Regions from separate parts of the Homo sapiens genome. Here all the other regions are linked to region 3. Evidence: fine-mapped expression QTL. A gene starts in region 3. Each other region holds a variant in brackets. All regions are shown on one strand. Distances are between the middles of the regions. Region 1 overlaps AP5M1 (adaptor related protein complex 5 subunit mu 1). Region 2 has its middle 40 kb from the start of AP5M1. Region 3 holds the start of AP5M1 (adaptor related protein complex 5 subunit mu 1).

Region 1 (8,447 bases), 22 kb after region 3:
AGCTTCATTTTAGGATCTTAGATTACACACTTACTGGATGTTATGCAGATCAGCATTCAGTTCAAGTTTTTGCATCAGGAAAACCAAAAATAAGTGCACGTAAGTTACACAGATTCAAACTAACTTAAGGGAATTAAAATGGTGTTTGCAGTTATTACCTAAGGTAAAATTTGAATGTAACAGAACTTAGAGATTAGAGAATAATCCCAATTTATAAAATTCTGGGCTGATTCTACCCCACATAACAGTTTGTGTACTTTACACTGCCCTCTGCCGCCTTCTTGTTTATAAAGTGGTCTGGATAAGCAAAGATTGGGATAGAGGGGAACTTCAGTGTAAAATTGGATTTGTTTTTCTCTGGTTATTCAGAGATGTGATTCACAGAGACTGTGATGTTGGACAGACAGGGCTTAAGCCTGGCTCAGCCATTTCATTAGCTGTATAACTTTGGGCAAGTTAGCGAACTTCTTGAAGTTTTAATTTTCTTGTGTATAAAATGGAAATAATAGTGCGATTTACCTCAGGATTGTTATGAGGTTTAGATAAGATTATATTGACTTAGTATGATGCTTAGTGTATAGTATAGATTTAGTAGATACTAGAGATGATTCTTATTTAAAACTTTTAAATATCTTTAGCAAATGTTGCAATCAATAAGCATTATTTAGCACCTTCTCTATTCTATCAATAGGAAGACAATAAAAAAGACGTTTCCTGATTTTAGTATGTTTAATGGTTGGTAAAGTATAGATCTATATGTGTGTACACACACACATACACACACACACACACACACACACACACACGAAACATATGAAAATATGAGACAAAAAACAATTTATAAATGAATCAAAAGTATTTAATTCAGATCAAATAGAAATATGTAACATCGAATAGTAGCTAAAATGAGGTAGAGTTATCTAAACTTAAACAACCTTTTTGCCTCATACATTAAGGAGAATAAAGCTGTTATATATGTGGATAAGAATAATCCCAATTTACACACATTTTTATTATTATAGTTAGATAAATATTTCTTAAACTAAGGATTAGGGTTCCTAAAATAAAAAGAATAGGAAAGGACTCTCCATGTACATTTCAAGAGAATTAGAGAACTCAGAACTACAGAATTCTAAGCAACTATTTGTGCTTGTCAATATAATTTCTACTATGTAATGTAACCAGAATAAACCAGTATTCTTTACTTCCCTAGGCTTGCCCTGTGTTTTCTCTTACATCATTTTTTTGTTGTATATATGAGAGACTGAAAGCAAACAGACCAGTATTTTAGATTGTCTATGGGAAAATAATTTATTTATGTTAACTAAACATACTGCAGTAATTTCCAGAGAACATAATACAAGATAGGAACATACCTGCTTCTTAATACAAAATATGTTGAAAGAACTCATTTTAAATTAATATTATGACCCATCTTTTCTTTCCTCTGTTAGTTTCAGAATGTGACTGCCAGTTTGTGCAATTATGTAAAACTTTATTTTGCCATCATCTTGACAATAAAATCTATTTTCATAATATACAACTTAGTTTAAAAATAGTTTAGTAATAATAATACCAATTTAAATAATAATGGCTAATATTTATTGCTTACTATATGCCAGGCAAAGTTCTAAGTGTTTTATGTGCATTGTCTCATTAATCCTCACAGCACCCTATGTAAGTGTTGTTATCTCCATTTTACAGATGAGGACACTGATGGAACTGAGAGATTAGGGTCCCATAGCTTGCAAATGGCAGAACTGCGAGTCAGATACTCAAGCATTCTGGCTCTGGAATCTGTCCACTTAACAGTATGCTGTCTTGCCTCTCATTGTTACTGCGTTCTCAAACTTTGAAGAGAACAAAAAAGACAATATAGTCTATATTCTTTTCATTATGAAGAAGGGCATGAAGAAGAAAGGTAGAACAGGCTGAATTGGATAATTATATTTAATTGGATATTTAATTATATATATATATAAAGAATTTACATGTGTAACTCCAAATGAACATTATTATCTCAACTTTACATATCAGAAAACTTTAGTTCAAATAGGTTGCCATTTTTGTAGAGTTTCAAAGCTATTTTTAAAAAGGCTTAAATTGATCAGAACTATAATAAGAAACCAGTGAAGCAAACTATTTAGAATGTTGCTAGGAAGTTAGGTGTTAATTTATATCTCTGACACTTTGGGTAAAGAATAGCAAGACCCAGAATCAGGGCTATGGTGATAAGGTTATAGAAGAGAAACCAATGAAAAATTTTTAATGTTTTTGCAGTCAGAGTAATGGTCCATACGAAAAAGATTTTAGAGAAAATGTGAAGATAAAATTGGCAGATTTGGCATAAATGAGAGATATTTCATATAAGGTCAAAGATGGATTCTTCAAATATTTAATGAGTCTATATTTGTAAAATGGTAAAAGTTATAATAAAGTCTTGATAATATGAAATTAAAATGAATATTTCAAAGTATTGACTTGAAATAACTGCATTCCACAATTTCAAAAATCATGACTTTGCTCTCGTTGAATTTTTGCTGAAATAGTCTTATCATTAATTTCTTTTTCTTTTCTTTAGACCGGAAACTAATTTCTTCTGATTATTACATCTGGAATTCTAAAGCCCCTGCTCCAGTAACATATGGATCATTATTATTGTAATAGTCTCATGTTTAAATGGGATTATATAATGATAACAGTTTAAAGAAAATCATAATCTTATATTTTTAATGTGGATGCATATAACCTGTGAGTGAAAAATCACTGAATGATTTAATTGTAAAAGTAGTCTTATGTGGTGTTTGTAGTCTGATAGAGCTTGAAAGGACATTTTAAAAGCTAATGTCTCCAATTTTGTTAACCTTCGATTTTATGCCAGTATAATTCAGAACATAGAAAAGTAATGATTCACTTGGGCTCATTTTAGACTGGTCCTGGGTCACCCTGCCACACTTGTTTCCTAGTGTTTCTGTGGCAGACATTGCTAATCAATTACAGCCCTTTTCTGTACTGAGCCTTGGATAAAGGGTCAGGCTCCTTTTTAGTTCAGAGATTCAGGCAGCCACTCCCAGTGGGTTGTAGATAATGTGCAAGATAAAAACTATTTTCTCTTCCAAATCTAAGTACTAAGCTCCTAGTATAAGGTGTTGTTACAGAATACCAGAGACCATGTTAGAGACAACTACATCTCTTCAAAAAACAGCCAACAGAGACAAAGGAAAAGTGTTTAAATAGTAAGCTGTTCTTCTTAATCAGAACTATCCTATTGACTAATAAATAATCTGCATAATTCTACTTAAGGTGTGTAATCTCTGTTCTAGAGTTAGTTTTTAAGTAAGCTTGTTAATCTGCCACTTTGACATTTTGCTTAGGATGTCAGTAGCCATATTAAGATGTGTAGAATACCTTCAGAAGATGATCATAGTGTTTTGTAATCATTTAATGTCTGCAGCCAAATTTTTAAAGGTAATTTAGACCTAATACTGCTCTTGCTGTGTCTTATTAAGTTAAAATTAATGAATGAATTCTGGTAAAAATTCAAAAGGCACTCTGTGAGTAGAGAGTATCATTTAAGCTTATTTTAGTCACATGTAGTATATATCTCCTTAAAGCTGTCACTCTCACTTTCTTACCATTCTCTTGATTTCTTCAGAAACCATCTAGTCATCATCTTTATACTCTACCTGCTTCTGCAATTATATATCATATTATGTTTTCAGAGCAGTTCATTGTCAAGTTGGACTTTAAGTGACCATTCAAGAAAAGATGAAATCTCACGAACCTCAAAACTTCATTCATGTCTTTTTACAAATGAGAAAAAAAAATGCATTAAAGATTAATACTCAATTTGATTATATCTT[G/A]GGTTCTGTTTTTTAATGAGTGTTCTAAGGAAAAGCTTAGAAAAGCTGCTAACTCCTCAGAAGAAAGCATGATAGTTTAAAGGTATAGGGCATATAAATTTAGGATTTGAAATATGATTTTTTAATTAAGGTCAGTCCTACTCATAAACTCATTTTCTGCAAAGCATTATCATGGCATAAGGTTCTATGTTCAAAATTATCCCAAGTAACAAAGAAAAAAAGAATAACTGCCTGACCAGGATTTTAACTTGTTATTCTAGCTTAATCATAGATAATCAGCAGTGAAAACTTTCCTTTTGAAAGAAGAAAATATCATTCCCTATAAGTTATTTGATCTCTCTTAAACTCAAAGCTTAACATTTCACTTATGTTGATAAGTTAATGGTAATGGAGCCATTTGGAATCTTGATTGTATAAATGTTTACCAAATACACTAAGGTAAGCAAGAGGCATTTATCTAGTGAGTAGGCAAAGATTTAATATAATAATCCCCTAGGCAAAAGTTTATAAGCAGTTAGAAAAATCAGTGAATCTTCTATTTGACATTTCTAGAAACCGGAGGAAAATCTAGGGTGTCCTGGAAAAGTGATGAGGTGTTGGGGAACCTGATGCCATCTGTTGCCATTCCATTCTAACATAGTGCTACAGAACTGAACCAACTTAGGTTTTCATCCCATTGAGATCAGCTGGGCACACTGTGATGCTTTTGATTTTGTCTAGAAACCTGTCACTTCAGGATAATTTCTGAAGACAAAGTCTGTTTCCCGTTTGGTAGGTGACCTGTTTAATGTTTTCCCTGTGTCTGGGAACTCCTTAGTGTAATTAGCGACCTTTGAACTCCACAACTAATCCTGAGCTATTTTGTATTCCTTACTCATCTTTAAGGCTGGACCTTTCCTTTCTTCAGAGTCCGTTGCCACAATTAAAGAAGAAACAGCTGCATTTCAAAGGGATTCCGATTCCAGAAGCTTAATCGTGATTGACATGTTCTTATTCTAAGCTATAAGACACTCTAAGAGTCCTTTCTTGGGTTAAAACTTCAATCATTTTCTAAAAAATTATCTCACTATGGATTTTATTCATTTTCTTTGATAACTATTCTTTGCATTTTTTAACTTGAAAGATGCTTTGCGTTTGCAGTGAATATGAGCAACTACTTCCAGTGAAAGATTTGGATAGTGTCAGACCTTCTCTAGATGCAAAATTGCTAAATTCCCTTTTAGTGCCAAAATATGATTATGAAATCTGATGTCTATCACATAGGTAATTATTCTTCAATAAACTCGAAAGGTTAAAAAAAAAAGTGTTAATTTTTTAGAATGAACTCCAGAAAAGATCGTTCATGATTTTGTAAACGCTTCTTTTCTCCATTTTTTACTAAACAATATTTTAAAAACTTTTTAGAGCCAGCAATATAGTACTTAGGCAATACCCTTACGGTGGTGGCAATTTTTTTTTAACTTTTTAAGTAATTGATTCAAATGTCAAGTTTGAAGCAGTCTTGTCAGGAATTCTGATGACAATTATTTGTTTAAAAAATTTTTTTTATTAAACATTAGTCTGTCCCATAAAATCGTTTTCATTTTTTTCACACCAATTCAGTATTTCTACTAGGTTAAAATTATGGTGTTTTTATACATTGTATGATTTAAGATCTTTCAAGGCAGACATTTATACTTGGTAACAATTGCCAATTTTTTTTTCTGGTTTTTGTTGTAGTATTTCAAAATACTTCGTAGACATTGATAGACTCCTACACTACCCCTGGGAGCTAGGTAGGTGGAATTATCATCCAGGCCTTCTGTAGGGACTGCTGCCACAACAGAGTGGTTGTTCCTAAGACAAAGGTCAAAAAAAGGGGTGTTAATAAACAGTCCTCAGGTTTAAGGGACTTTTTTAGGATTACATCTTAAATTCCAACAAATCAGATTTAGGAGTTACTGAAAGTGAAATTGATCCATCCCTCATCCAAACTTTGCAATACTTTCCTGTTCTGACATCATTTAGATAGTTAGCTGTATTATCAGATTAGAAACCATTGTACCAGGCTGCTGAAAGGAAAAGGAGGCAAAAAGCTAAACATGGGATGAATTCTGAACCTTTTAACCTGGCTGAAGTACGTTGGTCCCTGTTATGCAAATACCTTCAATCCTCTGCTAAGTTCAGTGGAAATAATTTTCTTGAATGACAGGTTTATTCAGCAAGGATTCAGTTGGTGATTAATCCCCCTTTGATCTAGGGTATTTCACTTAACTACCAGTTACCTCGTTCTGACAAAGTGCAACTGAGATTAGGGAGATCACTAGAACACTACCAGGGTGTGCGTTTATTCTCTATAACCTTTTAAAGCAAGGGCCAAGAATGCAATTTATTTTCAGTATTTGAAGATGTAAAGTCCTGTCTGCTAAGTTAGAAAGTCAATTGAATACCAAATGAAGTTTATTTCTTACGTAATAGAACAAACATTTCTTTTTGCTTCGCCTAACAATGATATTAGGAAACATAGGCTTTGAAGAAAGAAGAAACAAAGACTACATTCTAAGTATTGCTTCTAGTTTTGTTTCATGCACTAGGGTATACTTAACTGGCCTTGACATAACCAAAAATCAAAGCAGTGGCTACAACTTAGACTGAGAAAATGCTTCTGTTTTATTAAGCTGCATGGTTTCTTCTCACCTTTCCCCCTACCACCACCACCACCATTAGAAAATGTCATACTGTGTGGTAAAGAAATCCAGTTGAGGAAAATGTGTTGCAGTACACAGTTATCCACCTTAAGACTAATGATTTCGAAGCTTTGTTAACTATTTCTTTTCTTGAGGCAAAGGAGCTTCTTGTGTTTCCATTATAAGAATAATTGCATTCATTTTCAGAATGCTTTTTTAAAAAAAAAAAGTGACAGCATTACCAAAATAGCCGAGTAATTAAATTTTTTCTGCCTGCCTTTTTCTCAGTTATCTGAGTACCTCTTCTTCCATAATTTTAAATTTTGAAATATTATATGGAATTTTGCACAGTATTTTGAGAAAGAAAAGGTAATGTTTCATGGTAGGTTTCTCAATTTGCTGTTTAAAACTGTTTCAATAGCAATGTCAGTCTTTATCTTGTAAGATGTCAAATCGGGATTTATTCCTCCAGTATATTTTAAGACCTTTAAAAAAAAAGTATAGTGATTTGTTACAAAATATGTTTTTAAAGATTAGATTTTGATTAATGATTTAGTTATATACAGCATTTTAATGCTTAGTAATTACTGTTCTAGTAGCATTTTGCAATACAAGGGATGTATTTAGATTATTATACTTTTTTTGGCTCAGACTTTTTGTGATCTAATTTATAAATTGAAACAATGACTCAAAGAAGTGCATACCTAACTTACGTTTGTGCCAAGCCAGCCTCCTCTAGTTTCAATTTAATAACTAGTTTCAAAATATATTTTGATAGCAAGTTCCTAAACCACAGCAGAATTGCGGATCAGGAAAAATACAAGATAACGGCATTCTATAAAGATAGAGGGCAGGTTCCCATGGCTATGTTGCTAAGAAACTAGTGTTTTTAATCATTACACTCCGTGCAGTCATATTTAATCAATAAAACAGGATATATTTTGAAATTCACCATCACAGAATATATATATATATACACACAACATATATATACAAGTATATGAATTTACGTAAATGTGTACAACACTAGTGTGTCTGACTTGGTGGGTTTCCCTGTGAAACATGTCAGTATCATGTAAGATGAAGAATATTTTAAGGGCAAATATTCAAATATCTTTCCTCCAAACACAGTATTAGTTAATAGTAATGAAATGATTCATTAAACTGAAAATTGCAAAGGAACTCATGAGTTCCTTTGTGATTGAAACAAAGTGATTAAAACTCTTATGACCTGAAGGCTTTCCAACTAGCCTCCAACTGTCCGCACCAGCTGTTTCATGGATATAACATTAGTGTTTGTGTATAGCCTGGAACAATACAAGGCTGTATCTGTATCACTAGCTTCTTGCCTTATAAGCAGGATACTGCAAGGTCTGGTTGATTTCTCTAATGCCCTAGCTAATCTGCCTAATTGACATCAGTGTCATGTTAATGTATGATGCACAAGCATTTACAGATGGACAAATGCTCCACACTAAAAACCACCTGCTGAATTTTTTTTCCAGTAGGATGTGAAATTTTGCACTTCTAATCTGTTGAACATTTAAAGTCAAAACTACATGTTTCCTTTAAATGGCCTCTTTAAATGATATTTTATGTTTATAAATTTTGTTATGAAAAATTTAAAAATTAGTTATTCCTCTTAAATTTTTACTTTTTCCTTCAAAGGACTTGGGTGCCCTCTGCAGGTTATAAAGAGATAATTAGTGACTATATCTATTTTAAAACCCTGTGATTTTTCTCTTTCATACACATAGCCTGCTTACACCCAATTTCAAAGAAAGTGTGAGCTAATTTATTTATATTAACTCTTATTAATTTGCCAGTGGTTGAAGTTGGAGTTTCTTTTCTCCACTGGTTTTATAGGTGTGTTTAGTGTGAAGAATGTGATACCATTGAACTTCCAGACTACTTAGCT
Region 2 (8,481 bases), 40 kb after region 3:
CAGAGCTGGCCTTAGGTGGGCAGTTGACCCTCAGCATTTTTGCTTTCTCTTTGAGTACATTACTAGTATCCACTTTGCCCCTTCTCCATACCTAAAATCTCAGTACTTCTGTGTGCCTAGATTTTGGGAATCACTTCCAAGTCTCTGTGTCCCCACTGAAGTATTAGCGACTTCACGTGCTCTAATATTAGAGGATTCGCTTTTCAGATAGAATGTTGCAAAGTGAGTAAAGCTGAGCAAAAAGGCCAATGGTGCGATTTCTGACATTGACAGTGTTCTGTATTTGGGGCTATAGGGCCTCCATACTGTTAGATACCTTTCAAACTATGCTACATCAGCACCTCCTTATTCATCCTACTCATGTGGTCCATCCACCTTGATAAAGGGACAGCCAAAATTATTACTCGTGATTGCAAACAGGGAATTAGGGCTCATGAGCTTATGGGAGCATCTATCCTCATGAGCACAGGTTATCAAATCTTTTTATAAAGTCACAGGGCTTTTCCATCTTAAAACTAAAACAACACTCCCCCACTCCCCAAGATCCACACAGTGCAAGTAGCTGTGCAATCACAATTATATCTATTTTCAGTTTCTAAATCTGAAAAATGTGGAAGCAAGACGATTAGATTATCTGTTTTTTTATCCATCTCTTTTTAAATCTTTTAAAAAGTCAACCTCTTTTTTTTAAATTAGATCTCTTTTTAAATTAGTGTAGGTATCAAATTTTATTGTTAGTAGCCATGAGAGATGAGACAAATTAAGAAAAAAGTAATGATGACAATGATGACAGGGTTCATAGTTAAGGAAGTTGAGTTATAAAAATCTTCATCTATAATTTTGGAGGTTGGGTCACAATTTTAAAAATTAATACATTTTACCTATAGATAACTATTTGTTGAACATCTACTATGTGCCAGGCATTATTCTAGTCACTGGAGATCAGCATGAATAGAACAAAATCCCCTGATCTCAAGGAGCTTAACTACAGTAAGATGAGATAGAAAATAAAGATGTAAATAAGTAAAATACATAGTATATGAGGTGGTGATAAATTCTTTGGAGTTAAAAAAAGAGGGGAGGGGTAATCAGGACAAAGAGTCCTAGGAATGGAAGTGGGGTACAATTTTTACAACGTAATGTATAGTGGTCACAAAATGGGGGAGAGCCAGGTAGCAGGGGGCAAAAGTGAACCCTCTAATGATTGGGAAAAGAGAAGCAAGTGCTGTGAAAGGCAAAATCCACACACCGGGAAAAAGAAGTGGCCCAAGCTTAATCATGACAAGGACATCTAGGTGTCACAGGACAGGCAAAGGTATCATTGAGAAGTACTTCTATTTCTCAAACTCAGTATCTTGCTATTTTAAAAGATTTTTTAAAAAAACAACTGTTGTAGTTTCACAAAACACCTAAAGCCTAATTGCAATTGCCAACTACCTTCTGAAACATCAGTGTAAAATCCACAGGTATGAAAGATAATGCTTGAAATATTGTATCCTAAGCAAGACTGTTTCTCAATAAGATAGTCTGCTATTTGACTTTTTTTTTAAGCTTTCTATTAGTAACTATAATTGGAAGTCAGAGGTTGGAAATTTTCAATTCAGGAGATCCACTGAGAGTATTTTGAGCAAAATTATGGGGAGGGGGAACTGCATTCATGAGGTGACTGATCTAGAGTTGCTGAGGCCAACTGCTACCCTGGAAGATGTGGGGTATAAAAGAGAAAGAGGCGTACGTTAGAGCTGCACCATGGTCAAAGTCAGCTCCAAGGAAGAGAAGTTGGGCTTTGTCTAAGAGCTGCTTTGTCTTGCCCAGAGAGATAGGCAGTAGACCACCCACTTTTCAACAGGCTCTGGCTGCAATAAGGGGCAAGAGAAGTAGTGGACTGGTGTGCTCAACATCAGTATTCCATTTAATTGGGTAAAGAAGTTGGACCAAACAAAAGCCCCTTATGTTTTGGATAATGAGAGAAAAGTCCATTATTTGCCCATATTTATCCATATATTTATGATCAATTTGTAGAACAGTTCAGACATGTTACATCTCCAAATTGTATAAATATTCTACCCTACTTCTTAAATTGAGAGGATCTTAAGTAAACTATTTAATTACACCCAAGTAAAGTTTGAACATGGAAATTTTGGCAAAGGAAATGTTGAGAGTATTCATTATCACACATATTTACTTATGCTATACAAATGCATGGTGTTGTAGGCTAATTCTGAACCTAGATAATAATACCTAACATTTGTCAAGCACTTACTATTGATTAATCTCTATGGATTTTCTCTTTTAATCCTCCCCAAAACCGTGGAAGTTTGTTCTACTGGTACCTCCATTTTGCAGAGGAGAAAAATCGGGGCTTGATGAGAGTAGAGCCAAAATGTGAACACAGGGCAGCCTGTCTGGGGAGCCTGATTTCTTCTCCCTCTAATACAAGGCCTGCCAGGAGCAAACCTGACTCTTTGACAGTTGCAATGCCAGGACTTACATCTATTTTTATTCTTCAGTGGTCTTCTTTCTAACGCAAATAACACTAAAGCTGAAGTACTCACATTGATCCAGTTCATCTTTTCCCTAATTAGGTTGGTGTGAACATTTCTCTGCAGATCTTTCACCTTTCTTAACCCTCCCTTCTACTAACAGGGGCATTCAGTTGATGGGTGCTCTCTGGCAAGCCTGCCAATGATGCTTTGTAGCCATCTGTAAAAGAAACTTTTGCCCTGATGCCCTCCGTTTCCACAAGCAAATGACTCAAATTTCAGAGGCAAGAGGTGAGAAAAATGTAAATGGGATTCCTTGAAATGTCTCCTTTAGGTTCAGAGACCATACCTTGCAGGGGCTAATTGTCAGAAAGTTTAATTGTTACCCTGGAACTTGAGCTTCCCTCCTGTGCTGGGGCACACCATGGGTGCTAATAGTGAGGAAATTTGTGGCTCTGCCGTGTTCTCTTCATTAAGCTAATGGAACATTTTCCTCTCATTTTCGCCCTAGGGTGGCTGTAGGAGTACAACCTTATAATTGTTACTCTTACAGTAATTGGAGGTAGTAGGAGTATATATAATCTTACTGTCTTTTCTATGTGATGGTAGTTTATTTATGACCTATTGATAATCTCCAGCCAGCAGCAGAAAACTCAGTGAGTATTACATTAGCATTCCCTCCTAGGAGAGTGACTACTAAACAAAGACTATTATTAACCAAAAGAACATATATGAGGGATGGCCCATCATCCCAAATATAAACTTCATTACTGCAAAGATTGACCCCTCTGCGAATCATGGGCGTTCATTTTTTCTGCTAGAATACATAAAGCCTTAATCTTGACCTTTCTTTAGATATATGACTAGGCTTCATGAATCATTTTGGGAGGCTCTCAAAGTCCACTGCACATTCTTCAATGTGGTAGCGTGTTCTGTTTTGCCATTAAAGTCCTTGGAGTATAATAGGCCAGGAGAAAAGCATCAAAATTCACCATTCAACCCCCTGAATCAGAGCCACTGGGCCATGCTGAGTATAATTTTGGGCCAGCAGGACCCCCCCCAAAAGAAGGACACTGCGATGCCCTTGGAACCTGTTAACCTAAAGACAAATGGGGAGATGTGCTAAGGTACAAACACCTGTACTGCCAAATCTTGACCTCCTGCAGTGTACCTTGATGAATTAACTCTTTTATTGCCATCTATAAGATGGAACATTCTTTAAGACATTGAGTATCCTCTGAAAATTCTCCACAATCCATGTGGTACATTTGGTCTTCCTTACAGAGTAGCTGAAAAGAATGTGCGTGTTGGCAATTTTGCCGCTTAAAATAGTTCCATCCAAGGACTGCCCTTTATTTTTGGATAAACAATCTCTTTCAAGTACAAAGAGCTCATAAGTATAAAAAATTAGGTTGGTATTCATGGGAATATAATATTATATATTCTGCTCTACCAGGATATCAAACATCCAAAAATGTAAGGCTAGACAGGATGCATGGTCAAATATCTGAATTGATAAAACTTAGAAACTTAAAATCAGCATTAATCTAGTATCTAATATGTGGCAAGCACAGTGCTAAGAAAATTCACAGACATTATTTCATTTTCTACTCTGGTGGTAGGCAGAATAATGGTCCCCCAAAGATGTTCATATCCTAGTCACCAAAAACTGTCAATATGTTACCTTACATGGCCGATGTTATTAAGGATTTGATATGAAAGATTATCCTCGATTACCTGGTTGGGCCAGTGTAATCACAAGAGTCATTCTGAAAGGAAGGCACAAGGGTCAGAGTCAGAAAAGAAGATATAACTGTGAGAGACATCAGTGATATGGCCATGAGCCAAGGAATGTAGGCAGCCTCTAGAAACTGGAAAGGGCAAGGAAATGGCTTCTGCCTCTAGAGCC[T/G]CCAGAAATAATGCAGCTCTGCCAACCCATTTTGGACATCTGACCTCCAGAACTGTGAATAATAATTTTGTGTTGTTTTAAGCTACATTTGTGTTCATTTGTATTGCAAATTACACAAAGTGTACAAATGCAAATTGTACAAATGCAGTACAAATTACCACAAACATGGCCACCCAATTGACTAAGTAGGATACTGTCTTAATCCACTTGGGTGGCTGTAACAAACTACTGTAGACTGAGTGGCTTACAAACAGTACAAATTTATTTCTCACAGTTCTGGAGGCTGGGAAGTCCAAGATCAAGATGCCAGCAGATTTGGCATCTGGTGAGGGCTGGCTGCCTGGTCCATAGGCAGACATCTTTTCATGTAACATCATGTGGCAGAAGGGAACAGGAACTCTCTGGGAGTCCCTTTTATAAGGGCACTAATTCCACTCATGCAAAGGTCCCAACTCCCAACACCATCACACTGGAGGTTAGGATTTCAATGTACAGACTTTGTGGAGAGAGATAAACATTCAGTCTATAGCAGACACTAATGCAGCTCCCAACAATTTTATAAAACAAAACTATCATCTCAATTTTAAAGACAGAGAAACTGATATTTCAAGGGTTTCAAGTGGCTTGATTCAGCCTTCAAGAGAGAATTTAGGTACACTCAAAAATAGCCACACCTTATGCATTGTGAGAGGAATCAGTCCTTGAAGCAAATGAGTTTTCCCCAGGTCCTGAAAAAGCTGCAGGATGCATAAACTAGCTAACTCACTGACAGGACATTCATTCTTTTGTCTTCAGTCATCAGACTAGATGACTTTTTAATGAACGTAGCTGAGTTTTTATTTTTGAAAAATCTGTCAAGTTGGTGAACATTAATTCATCATTTCTGAAATCTGAGCTTGCTGTATTGCTTCTTCTTTTCTCTCATCATTTTAGTTTGGGCTTTCAAACAATTTATACCTGAGTGAAATAAACAATCTGTGAGGAAAACGGGCTTACTCTGTTTCCTGGTATGCAAAATAGCAACTTTAATCAGGTAGGGGCCTAGGAAAAGATGTCATATTCTAGTCTCATCTTTGCAGCCTATGTAAATTGCGAGTGTATTTTTGGAGGATTAATGGTCATTTTCCATGCACCTGGCATCTTGCAGCTCCCTGAGTTCTGCAGCAGGTCTTTAATAAAGATCTGAGCCACAGGGTTTTAGAAGGGTTGCTTTAACTTTGAGCCCATTTGGTTCTATAATAGATTTGTGTTCATGGCCCATCACCCCTAGCTTTAGGGAATATCCCTGCCCTTTCTATGTGGTACAAGTGAAGACAAGCTAAATATCCCCATGTGACCTAAGCCTAGCCAATCAAAGTGCTCTACCTTCTGACCATAATGATTGGTTCAGGGATCAGGGATGGGTATGTAGCCTAAGATGATCCAGAGTTCTTTTTTGGACTTTATTACCAAAGAAGAAAGATATTTTCTCTTCCTCCTTGGCAATCTATAATAATAGATTGTAGCCACTGTAGGCATGTGACTCATACATCTTGCAACCATTTTTCCAGAATCTTAGGGGGCAGCATCTGCTGTAAGAGAATGCAGCCAACACCCTCAAACTGAGAGTTGAGAGTTAGAGAGGAAAGAAAACAAAAGCAAAAAAGTCCTAATTTATCCAGCCATGCCTTGTGCAGCTAGTCCTGCTCCTGGACTCTTCAGGTACATAGGGCAATACACCACCCTTTTCAAACTTAAGTTAGTTTGGTATGGATTTGTGATTAAAAGAGAATAGGTTTTTTTGTTTGTTTGTTTGTTTGTTTGTTTTTAAATTTGAGACAGAGTTTCACTCTTGTCGCCTAGGCTGGAGTGCAATGGTGCAATCTCAGCTTATTGCAACCTCCGCCTCCCGGTTCAAGCGATTCCCCTGCCTCAGCCTCCCAGGTAGTTGGGATTACAAGCATGCATCACCATGCCTGGCTAATTTTTTGTATTTTTAGTAGAGACGGGGTTTCACCATGTTGGCCAGGCTTGTCTCAAACTCCTGACCTCAAGTGATCCGCCCGCCTCGGCCTCCCAAATTGCTGGGATTACAGGCATGAGCCACTGCACGTGGCTAAAAATAGAATAATTTTTAATTTAACTTTTCAAAAAGATGATATCATAACTCAAGGAAAAGGTATATAATGAACGCCTTCTCTCCAGTTTGTTCCCATCTGCCCATTTTCTTTTTCTTTTTTGAGACGGAGTCTCGCTCTGTCACCCAGGCTGGACTGCAATGGCGCAATCTCTGCTCACTGCAAACTCCGCCTCCCGGGTTCACGCCATTCTCCTGCCTCAGCCTCCCAAGTTGCTGGGACTACAGGCGCCCACCACCACGCCCGGTTAATTTTTTTTTGTATTTTTAGTACAGACAGGGTTTCACCATGTAAGCCAGGATGGTCTCAATCTCATGACCTCGTGATCCGCCTGCCTCGGCCTCCCAAAGTGCTGGTATTAAGGCGTGAGCCACCGCGCCCGGCCATCTGCCCAGTACCCCACAGGTCGTTCCTAATTTTTAAAACGTAACCTTTTAGATTTTATTCATGCATATACAAGCAAATGGACAAATATGTCTCTATTTTCCTCTATTTTAACACAAAAAGTAGCACACTAGACATTGTTCCTCACCTTGATTTTTTTCACCTAAGAATATATATTGGCAGTCCTTTCCTAACAATGGATAGAGAGCTTCTTCACTCCTATATACAGCTGTACAGCATTGCAAGATCAATTCTGATCAGAGGCAGGGTGCGGTGGCTCACGCCTGTAATCCCAGCACTTTGGGAGGCCAAGGCGGGCAGATCACGAAGTCAGGAGATCGAGACCATCCTGGCTAACACGGTGAAACCCCGTCTCTACTAAAAAATACAAAAAATTAGCTGGGCGTGGTGGCAGGCGCCTGTAGTCCCAGCAACTCGGGAGGCTGAGGCAGGAGAATGGTGTGAACCCGGAAGGTGGAGCTTGCAGTGAGCCGAGATTGTGCCACTGCACTCCAGCCTGGGCGATGGAGTGAAACTCCGTCCCCCCCCCCCAAAAAAAAACAAAAAAATTCAATTCTGATTAGAAGCACTGTGAAAAAGCTGGCGGGTTTTGAGAAATGGAGTCAAAACTCTTTGTGAAAAAATAGTGTAACTCTTATGGCAAACAGCATATAGGATTTTTGGCCCACTTTTTTAGTAAGTCGGAATCTCCCATTTTTGCATCCTGCTAAGCCTAATATTTCCAGAGATGAATATCAATCTTTGGGGCTACATTTGCCATGACAATTGTGAATGGCCCTATATAATCTTGAAAAATGAATCCAGGGCAAATAGAAGACTATGGCACAGGTTGCAAACTGGAGACCTACAACTCAGCCTGCTTCACAAATACATTTTCTTTGGCCTGCACAGTATTTTTTTAAAAAAAGTTTAGCTACTTTTTAATGTTTAAAATGTTTTAATTGGGCTATTTCATATTAACATTTTAATATTTTGTTTTAATATCTTATTTTAAATTTTCATATTAAAAACACAGATTTCTGGTTTCCCTTGACAACTTGGATTGTTCATTTCCACAAAGCAGCAAGAGGTTGAAGTTCAATAGCGAGGACCCTCTTTAAATAGGGTATGCCCTGTTCAGTTCTCCACAGTTCCTGCTGCTTTCTGTGGTCCCTCAACTCTAAGGTCAAGGGCCTTCTGCCATATATTATGTCTCTTGCTCTATTGCTTCTCTTTATTTACACCCAGGTAGCTTCTATGGACATTTGACTGTGTGACATCAAGTTTATTATATTTGAATCCTGGGGGACTTTAACACCCCTTCAAAGGAGAGTTATTTTCACAAGACTATCTTGAAAATGCTCAGGGGGAAAAAAAAGTTTTTCTCTTTTTCATCTTAATTAGTTTTTTGGGTCGAATAGTAAAAGAAAAGAAGAAAAAAATTACTACAGCATGTAGAAATCTCAATACATAAAGTACCTAAGGAAGATTTTTCTTACTCATTCTAACAATTATTACACTATGTTTTTTCCATCTTTGATTTGACCTCAATCATGGGAAAATCAGCATCTTGAATTACTCAGTCTTT
Region 3 (8,452 bases):
CCAGCCAAAATGAATGCTCCCCTTATCTCCAGGGCCTACAACCCTCCCTTTATGTCTTAGCTTTTATTGTCTGCTTTACTGAAAAGTCCCTCCATCCAGTTCCACAAACTCAAATCTAATTTATCCTCTGTAGGTAATTCAAATGCCACCTTCTAATCCTTTCTTTCTTCTAGAGGCAATCTTCCCATCCTCTCAACACCTATGGCACATCTAGACCTCTTTGAAACCATTTATAACCTTATTTTTAAGAGTATAGTATCATATATCCACCTTCTCTCCCTCTATTTGATAAGGACAAGTTCTATACTTAATTCTATTTTCCAAAATATGTACCTTGTAATTCACAAAATTAAGTTAACAAGCAGTAGAAAATAAAAGTCTCTTTAAAAAAGAAAGAAAACAGTCTCATGGTGAAAAAAGTTGGGGAAATGGACTTCTCATCATCTTTAACATATTAAGGTATACCGCAAATCTCCAACGAAACAGACTATGCTCATTTCCATAACTTACTTGGTCACTGAACCCTTTTTTTTTTTTTTTGCGACACATCTCATAGGATTAATATTTCTATGGCATGCCCTTTGAGACATGCAGCCTCGTCAATTTCAGAACTTTATCTTGAACTTAAAAGGTACTCAACAAATATCTGTAGAATGAATGAATAATTAACCCTAGTTACTAACCAAGAACTCTCCCGTAATGGTAGCCCAAACAGAGAAAAGCGAAGATTCTTGAAGAATTATGGGGGAAAAAATTAAGCAAATGAGGAAAGAATGTCCTCAGTAGTACAATAAAAGGAGAGAGGAACATTTGCAACAACATAAAAAGAACTGGCGGGGCACGGTGGCTCACACCTGTAATCCCAGCACCTTGTGGGGCCAAGGTGGGCAGATTGTTTAAGCCCAGGAGATCAAGACCAGCCTGGGCAACATGGTAAAACCTTATTTCTGCAAAAAATTTTTAAAAATCAGCTGGGCATGGAGGCAGGCACCTCTAGTCCCAGCTACTCTGGAGGCTAAGGTGGGCAGATGGATTGTGCCAGGAGGGTAGAGGCTGCAGCGAGCAGTGATTACCCAACTGCACTCCAGCCTATGCGATAGAGCAAGACCCTGTCTCAAAAACAAAGAAAAGGAATTTCTGAGCCCAGCCACTTTGTATATGTAGAAGATACAATTTATCTACACCACATAAGAATCCTTACTCAGAATGTCTATCCTGAGGAGATTTTAAAACACTGTACATGGATCTTTTCAGAAAGATCTGTCAACAAAAGTTGAAACTAAGAAGGTATTCTGAGAAACTTCCAGGATATACACTATTACAATAGCCAAATCATCTATTACTAAATCATTTCGGTCAACTGAGGAAATATATTACAGTTTGATTTTGTTATATGAAGTTGTTTTCATTGAGAGTCATGGGACCAATAAGATTTTAAAAGAAGCAGAGTTAACATAATGAAATGTCATGGATTCAAAAGCTTAATTTTGTTTTCATTTAACTTCTCCTAACATGAAAAGTGAAAGCATAATTCTATTTAACAGTGCATGAAAATCAGGATGCATAAAAACCAAACATCCTTGACTACATCCTGCCTTCCGTTTTCCACAGTTCTCCAGCTGGGACTAAGAAAGGGAAGCAGGAGAAAAAGATACTTCCCGTGACTCTTACTACAACCTAGATGCTATGGCAGTAGTTACAGGAAACTGAGCAGTGACAGGATTTTTTTTCCTCCTCCCTCCAAGGCCAAGAGATCAACTTTTCACTTGGGGATGAAAACTTACTCAAGAGTAGAGTCCACTGTAGGGCTGGATTCATAGCAGTACCAGAAAAGATAAATGCACTTCTTAATTATAACTATTGAAACTTAATTGTAACTATTATGCTTTTAATTATGATGAAGCAACAAGCTACATATAGTCAAGAAAAAAAGTCACGTCAGTTTTAAGATCTATAAATACGTTTAAATTTGTCCTAAAAACCCTCTGGCCTAAGGGTAGTCTAAGGGCTACTGTCTCTATTATCACAGAATCTTACTGGCTACCATGTAACTAGAGTCACTAAATTACATTATATATATGTATGTTATATATACGTTATATATATATATGTGTATGTGTGTGTGTGTATATATATATATATATAAAACGTATATATATACTACTTAACCTAATAGCAGGACCCCAGAAAGCAAAATATATATTTCCCCACCTCCTCCCCTTCCCCGCTAGGGAGAGGGGAAAAAAAAAAATCAAACATATTTCCAAATAAGTTACTGAAATCATGTGGTCAAACATTTAAATAAAAATATACATAAGATGGTCCAAGGTACAACTGGAACTGTCAAGCAGGATTAACTCAAAGGATAATGTCTTATGAACTGTATGACAACATATATAACAGTTTTCAGTTAAGAGCTGGCTTGCCGGCAAATACCTTAATTAAAGATCTCATACAACTTCATCGTTTTCTCCCTTTTTAAGATGTGAAAAATAAAACAAGGAACCACAGCACTACTTAGTACCTAGGGACACAGTAAAAGTTCCTAGCAGGAAAAATGTCTCCCCGTTCTTGTGTCAATAAACAGATGGCACAATTTTGGAATTACAGAAATTAATGTAGCATATCTCCCAACACTTAAGTGAGAAAATACAATATCTCTGAAGTCTTTCTTGTAATTACAATCCTTCATTCACAAATTACTGTCTTATTACAACTTATTATAACAATAACATATATTACTCCTCTCAAAAAAAGCATTATCTATCCAAAAGCTGACTGATATGCAAAATATAGTAACAATAACAAATGTAAATTTCCATTTGTTATTAAAACTGTGGCATTCAAATTGTAAGCCACAAAAACTGCTGAATCTTACGCAGAAAAAGGATACCATTTTCACTTATGGAGAAGTTCCCTATTGTGGATTACAGTCTTCTCAATTATTACACTTTTGTTACTCAATGTGAAACACAAGCACACACACAAAAAAGGGGTCTTTCTTTCCTTTTTCTTATCCGTTTTCATTTCTTTCACACAAGGAGATGCTTTATACGTGTCATTGTTTTGTAGCCTAATTAGAGTTTTCCTATTCTATTATCTCAAACTTTTATCACAGCTTCTTACAACGGACTTCACGAAATTAAATTTTAAGGTTTAGATACTGTAAACGCTCGAGGAAAGACATTAGTATTCTCACTATTACATATTAAGGATTCTCTAGCTTGCAGTTAGGTGATTTTATAATACATGTAAATGCATATAATACACTTAAGGTGCATTATATACATGAAACGAAGTGTTCGTTTTATTTTATAAACTTTTTTTATTTTATAATACACGTAAATGCCTCGAGTGTATTATTATGTATTACATGAAATAAAGTGTTCACTTGAATTTTGCCTCCCTTCAGTCTATCTCTCTTCAGTCGAAAGAGATAAGTAGGCCTTTATTGTCCAAAAAAAAAAAAATTGTCCCAGCCTTTTCAAATGTCAGGTTAAACTGGCAGTCCTATGAATGCCACCTGCAACCTTACTAATGGAATAATTACTCAAAACGAGAAGCCCCCAAGAGTCCCGATCTCAAGTGGCTTCCTCCTATTATTCCCGCGAGGACCCCAGCGACAAGACTCGCCCAACCTGAGGCTCCTGGCTCTCTTTCCTCGTCCTGAGTCAGCCCTTCCCACTACTCATCCGGAGTAGACATCTTCCAACACCCGAACCTTCCAGACTTTCCCTCTTGCCCCCACAAACAAAAGCAACCCTCCTCCCTTGGGACACCCGGCTTCCCCTCTCTGCCGACCGGCCGCCCAGCCCACCTCGGCCCCAAGCACCCCTCCCCCATTTCACGCTCCGCCCGCGCTGACACGGAGCTGCCACCCCAACCCTTCTGTTTCGCACCTCTCTCCCGAGGGCTCCTCCTGGGCAGCCAGCAAACGCCCGCTCCTCGGCCCGCCCACCCAGCTGCCTGCAAACCCCGGGCCTGCCACTCCCTGTAGAGCCGCCGGGGCCCACCTCGAAGAGCTCGGCCGTGGTAGCCATCCCGGCCGGCTGAGAGGCTCGCCCCCCACTGGATGCCGTCTCCGCTTCACATGCTGCGCCTCAGAGGCGCGGCGCACAGGTCTCCGCTCGGCTCGCCAGCTCCGGCTCCGGGCCGCTGCGGGCTCCCCAGCTCCCCACAGATCCCAGGAGGGGCGGGAGAGCGGCCATGAAGCGAAGCCGCAAACGCTTGTCAGCTGCCTCCCGGCGCCGCCCGCGCTGCTCCCATTGTCACCGCCTCATACGCCGGAAGTGGAACTGCGCGCGCCAGGGAGGTTGTCGGGAGGGGCCGGCGAATAAAACGAGCGGCGAAAGAACCGAAAAAAGGCTCGACGCTACCGTGTATGAGGAACTTTGATCCTTGCGGGCCACCATTCCGGAAGTAGAATTTAGAGGAAGAAAATACCGGAGTTGCAGGGTATAGGTAAATTTCTCAAGGTTATAGGTTGGGGTTCTTAGAACTTTTTGTGGTGTGTGTTGGCCTAGAGCGACTCAGAAGCGTTAGTGACTTCACCTAAAAAAGCTAACCTCTCTGCTGAGCGCGACCGGTATGCGGCGCAGGATGAGCCTCAGGGCTTCTGTTAAGAGTCTGTCTGAGAAAGCCGGTCTGCGCTGTTCCTCGGTGGCGACCTTAATTATGAGATGAGCTAATGCTTTACTGACTTAACCATGGCGCAGCGGGCAGTGTGGCTCATAAGCCACGAACCGGGAACTCCACTTTGTGGCACCGTGAGATTCTCCAGGTAAATGCAAATCTGAATCCTCAGGGATGATGGATCAGAAGATCGATGAAGTAGCATAGTTTTGTGGTGCTTCGTGGCCCAGGTTTGCCACGAATAGCTGCGTGACCTTGGGCTAGCCAGTTAACAGACCTCTGTTTCGTCTGTTAAATGGAGATTTTAATAGTCCTACCTTACAGTGTTGTGAGAATTGAGTTGATGACTGGTACATATTATTTACGGTATATGTTTTCTATTAGTATTGTGTTTTAAAATGACCTCCGTCTGCTTAGAATTAAAATGGAGATGACTAAGGGAACGGTAGAAAATTTACTGAGCACTAAACATTTTCAGATTTTTCAACATGCATTGACAAAATCGTTCCAGAACATTTTAACTTATTCTACTGAAAAATCCATGCTAAGTTATATCAGACTTTTATTTTTTTGTTTTTATTTTTTTGAGACGGAGTCTCGCTCTGTTCCCCAGGCTAGAGTGCAGTGGTGCGATCTCCGCTCACTGCAAGCTCCGCCTCCCGGGTTCATGCCGTTCTCCTGCCTCAGCCTCCCGAGTAGCTGGGACTACAGGCACCCGCCACCACGCCCGGCTAATTTTTTGTATTTTTGGTAGAGAGGGGGTTTCACCGTGTTAGCCAGGATAGTCTTGATCTCCTGACCTCGTGATCCGCCCGCCTTGGCTCTCAAAGTGCTGGGATTACAGGCAGGAGCCACCGCGCCCCGCCCAGGCTTTTATTTTTATCTTGTTAATATGTGTCAATGGTAGAAATCATCAGTTTACAGTTCCTAATTGTTGAAGAAAATAGAAACACAAAAAAATGTATTCACTATTTCATATATTGTGTTAAGTTGATCTGGTCCCACTATTAGAATTTGCCCTGTGTAATCAAAATAGCTCTGTTAAGGGAATTGTACAGTAACTCATTGTAAAATGTTGGTGGCAATCGAGTGGGTCTATTTCACCTTTTATTCTCTGGCCATTGATAGTTCTTTTTTGTCACAATTCGTTCTTCCCTGAAGAAAGCTTATAGTGAAGTAGTACCATAGTAGAATTGAGATTGAGGCAGAAAAAAAAGATTTTAATTTTAAATGAAAATTGGTTGGCAATGGGGATATGAAAAATTCCTTCTTTGCAACCTTAACAGTTTTTGTTCCTGAGGGCATCAGAGTTGGAGTTTACCATTTCCCCCCAGGATTTCTGGCTGACACTAACCCCAACATTTGTTGTTGGACCTCAAATACAGGAGATTAATAATATTCTTTAGTACGTGGTTTTACCAGGCGCATCAGTCCGTACAAAGTATCTCTCATTTTACTTATATTCCCTTTGGTTACCTATTTCTAACTGCCGTTCCCTTCCCACTGACAGATAACTCTTAACATCTTCGATGTTACTCTTTTTCATTGTATGCATTTTTCAAATTACATAATTAAGTGTGCTTTAGACTTCACTTCCTAATGTTACATTTGTCACATTTCTCAACACTATTTTAAAGAAACATCCATGATACTTTGTGTTCATCTAAGGCAGCATGTCCAATAGAATTCTCTATGATGATGGAAAGGAGAAATGTTCTTAATCTGTACTGGCTAATACTGTAGCCACTAGCCACAAGTACCTATTGAGCTTTTGAGCTGCAGCTAGCATAACTGAGGAACTCAATTGTTAATTTTGGGTAATGTTAATTGATTTTTATTTAAGTTTAAATAGCCACATGTGGGTAGTTCTACTATGTTGGACAGTGCAAATCTAGGCCATTGTTTCTTCTTGCTCTGTAGTACTCATGGTTCACATCCTACACATTTACCTGTCCCCTTTACCTAGTGATGACCTCTCCCAAATTTGCCTCCAAAGAACACTGCCAAAGTATGCATCCTCAAATCTGTCCATGGGGCATGTCTATGCCGATTTTGACTAAAGACTGCCAAATAATCTGCTCCACAGAATGCTTTCAGCCACCTACGCACTCACTAGCAGCAAGAAGGGGTTCCCGTATCTCCATTCTTTCCTAACATGTAATTTTTGCCAATAAAGAACATCTTATTTTCGTTTGCATTTCTGTATGTAGCAATGATTGTTAGTCCTTTAAGTTTCCTCTACTGTGAATTGCCTGTACATGTCTTGTCCTTTTTTTCTTTGAAAGTTGCTTATTTTTTCCTCTGAATTTGTAGGAGTTTGTTTTGTATTCTTGGTATTAGTCCTATGTCATTTTTAGATAGTACAGATATTTTCTTTAATTTACCATTGTCAATTAACTTTATGTTGCCCTTGGTTAAACAGAAATCACTAATTTTGATGCAATCAAACTAGTTAATTGCTTTTGGGAATTTGTTGAAGTTTTTTCTCACCCATATTTCCCAAAAATATCTTCCTACATTGTCTTCTCTTTATAATTTCATCTGCTACATTTAGGTCTTTAACCCATATGTAGTCCATCTTTGGATATGATGTTAAGTAGGAATCCCATTTCGGTTTTCTCTGTAGTGTGGGTCAGTTTTTCTGACATCATCTTTTAAGCAGTATGTCATGTCTTCATTAATTTGTGAGGCTACTGGTAGTGTTAGTTATGTCCCCTCATATAAATGTTGGTCTGTCTCAGTTCTAGTACTTTGTCTTTCTTGTACCAATACAATATCTGTTGCTTTGTAGCTTATCTTAATATTTCATAGAGGTGAACTTTTTACTGCTTAAGTAAATAAGTTTCTTAAATCCTAGTTTTCAGAATGTTTTTTCACTGTGTTCAGGATATTATTTCAGAATAAAAAGTCAGATATGTTTGGATGGGCTTTTCAATACATTTATGGAGGTAGCAAGTTGTGTTCAAATAATTTAATTCTGTATCATTGAATGACTTAGTTAAATTTTATTATATTTTCAGTTTTCTAACCTCTTGGGGGAGGTGTTAGAGCTACACAGATAGGCACTGACACTTTATAAGTGTCAATAAGTGGCCAATATTTAAGATTTAAGAAGGCAAATGATGTTTTCTCTATCTAAGTACTTATTTCCTATAACAAAACTTGGTTAAGATTCTGGTTTAAAGGTTTGCTTTCCAGATAATAATAGCATCAGCTTACATCTGGCTTAGGTCGGTATCATACCCCATAGTTGTAGGCCCATTTAAGCCTTGAATCCTGTTTTAGAAAAAGCATATAATAAATTAGAAATGATAGGTTGAGTCATCCAACAAAATATTTATTGAACACATATTGGGGTGTTGTGTAAGTTCCCAGATTAACTTATCTTCACAGTCAATTGTGAAATTTTTATACTTAAGAACTTTAATTACCCTCTGGAAAACTAGATAATAAGAGATTGGACTAGAGTTTAGTCCAGAGATCTCTACTATTCATATACAGAGATTTAGAGAAATAAATGGCATTTACCTGCTATGCCATGCCATTACTGGTGTGCTACCTGATTCTTCCCCTTTCTTAATCAAGAAAATGCATCAGAATGTAGGTGATATTTACCTACACATGGGTAACTGCTTTTGGGTTTTTTGTTTGTTTGTTTGCTTGCTTGCTTGCTTGGTGTTTTTCTTTTTGTTTGTTTGTTTTTTGAGATGGAGTCTCACTCTGTTGCCCAGGGTGGAGTGCAGTGTCACAATCTCGGCTCGGCTCGGCTCGGCTCATTGCAACCTCCACCTCCCGGGTTCAAGATTCTCCTGCCTCAGCC

What was found. PIP is the estimated chance that this variant, and not a neighbour inherited with it, causes the effect.
Region 1: its variant is fine-mapped to the expression of AP5M1 in whole blood (TOPMed, PIP above 0.99).
Region 2: its variant is fine-mapped to the expression of AP5M1 in whole blood (TOPMed, PIP above 0.99).

Annotation. Positions count from the first base shown.
Region 1 is chr14:57,286,221-57,294,667 of GRCh38, forward strand. It overlaps AP5M1 (adaptor related protein complex 5 subunit mu 1), which reads left to right. Exons shown (of 8, transcript NM_018229.4): 7 at 3-99; 8 at 2,582-8,447. The coding sequence ends at 2,664. Among named protein-coding and RNA genes, the nearest start is that of AP5M1, 21 kb to the left of the region's middle. The variant G/A (reference allele first, on the strand shown) is at 3,864.
Region 2 is chr14:57,304,299-57,312,779 of GRCh38, forward strand. No RefSeq gene overlaps it. Among named protein-coding and RNA genes, the nearest start is that of AP5M1, 40 kb to the left of the region's middle. The variant T/G (reference allele first, on the strand shown) is at 4,393.
Region 3 is chr14:57,264,609-57,273,060 of GRCh38, forward strand. AP5M1 (adaptor related protein complex 5 subunit mu 1) reads left to right here and starts at 4,363. Exons shown (of 8, transcript NM_018229.4): 1 at 4,363-4,780. The coding sequence starts at 4,707. EXOC5 (exocyst complex component 5) reads right to left here and starts at 4,297. Exons shown (of 18, transcript NM_006544.4): 1 at 4,014-4,297. The coding sequence starts at 4,040. RefSeq lists a silencer at 3,728-3,787 and enhancers at 4,097-4,680, 4,328-4,527.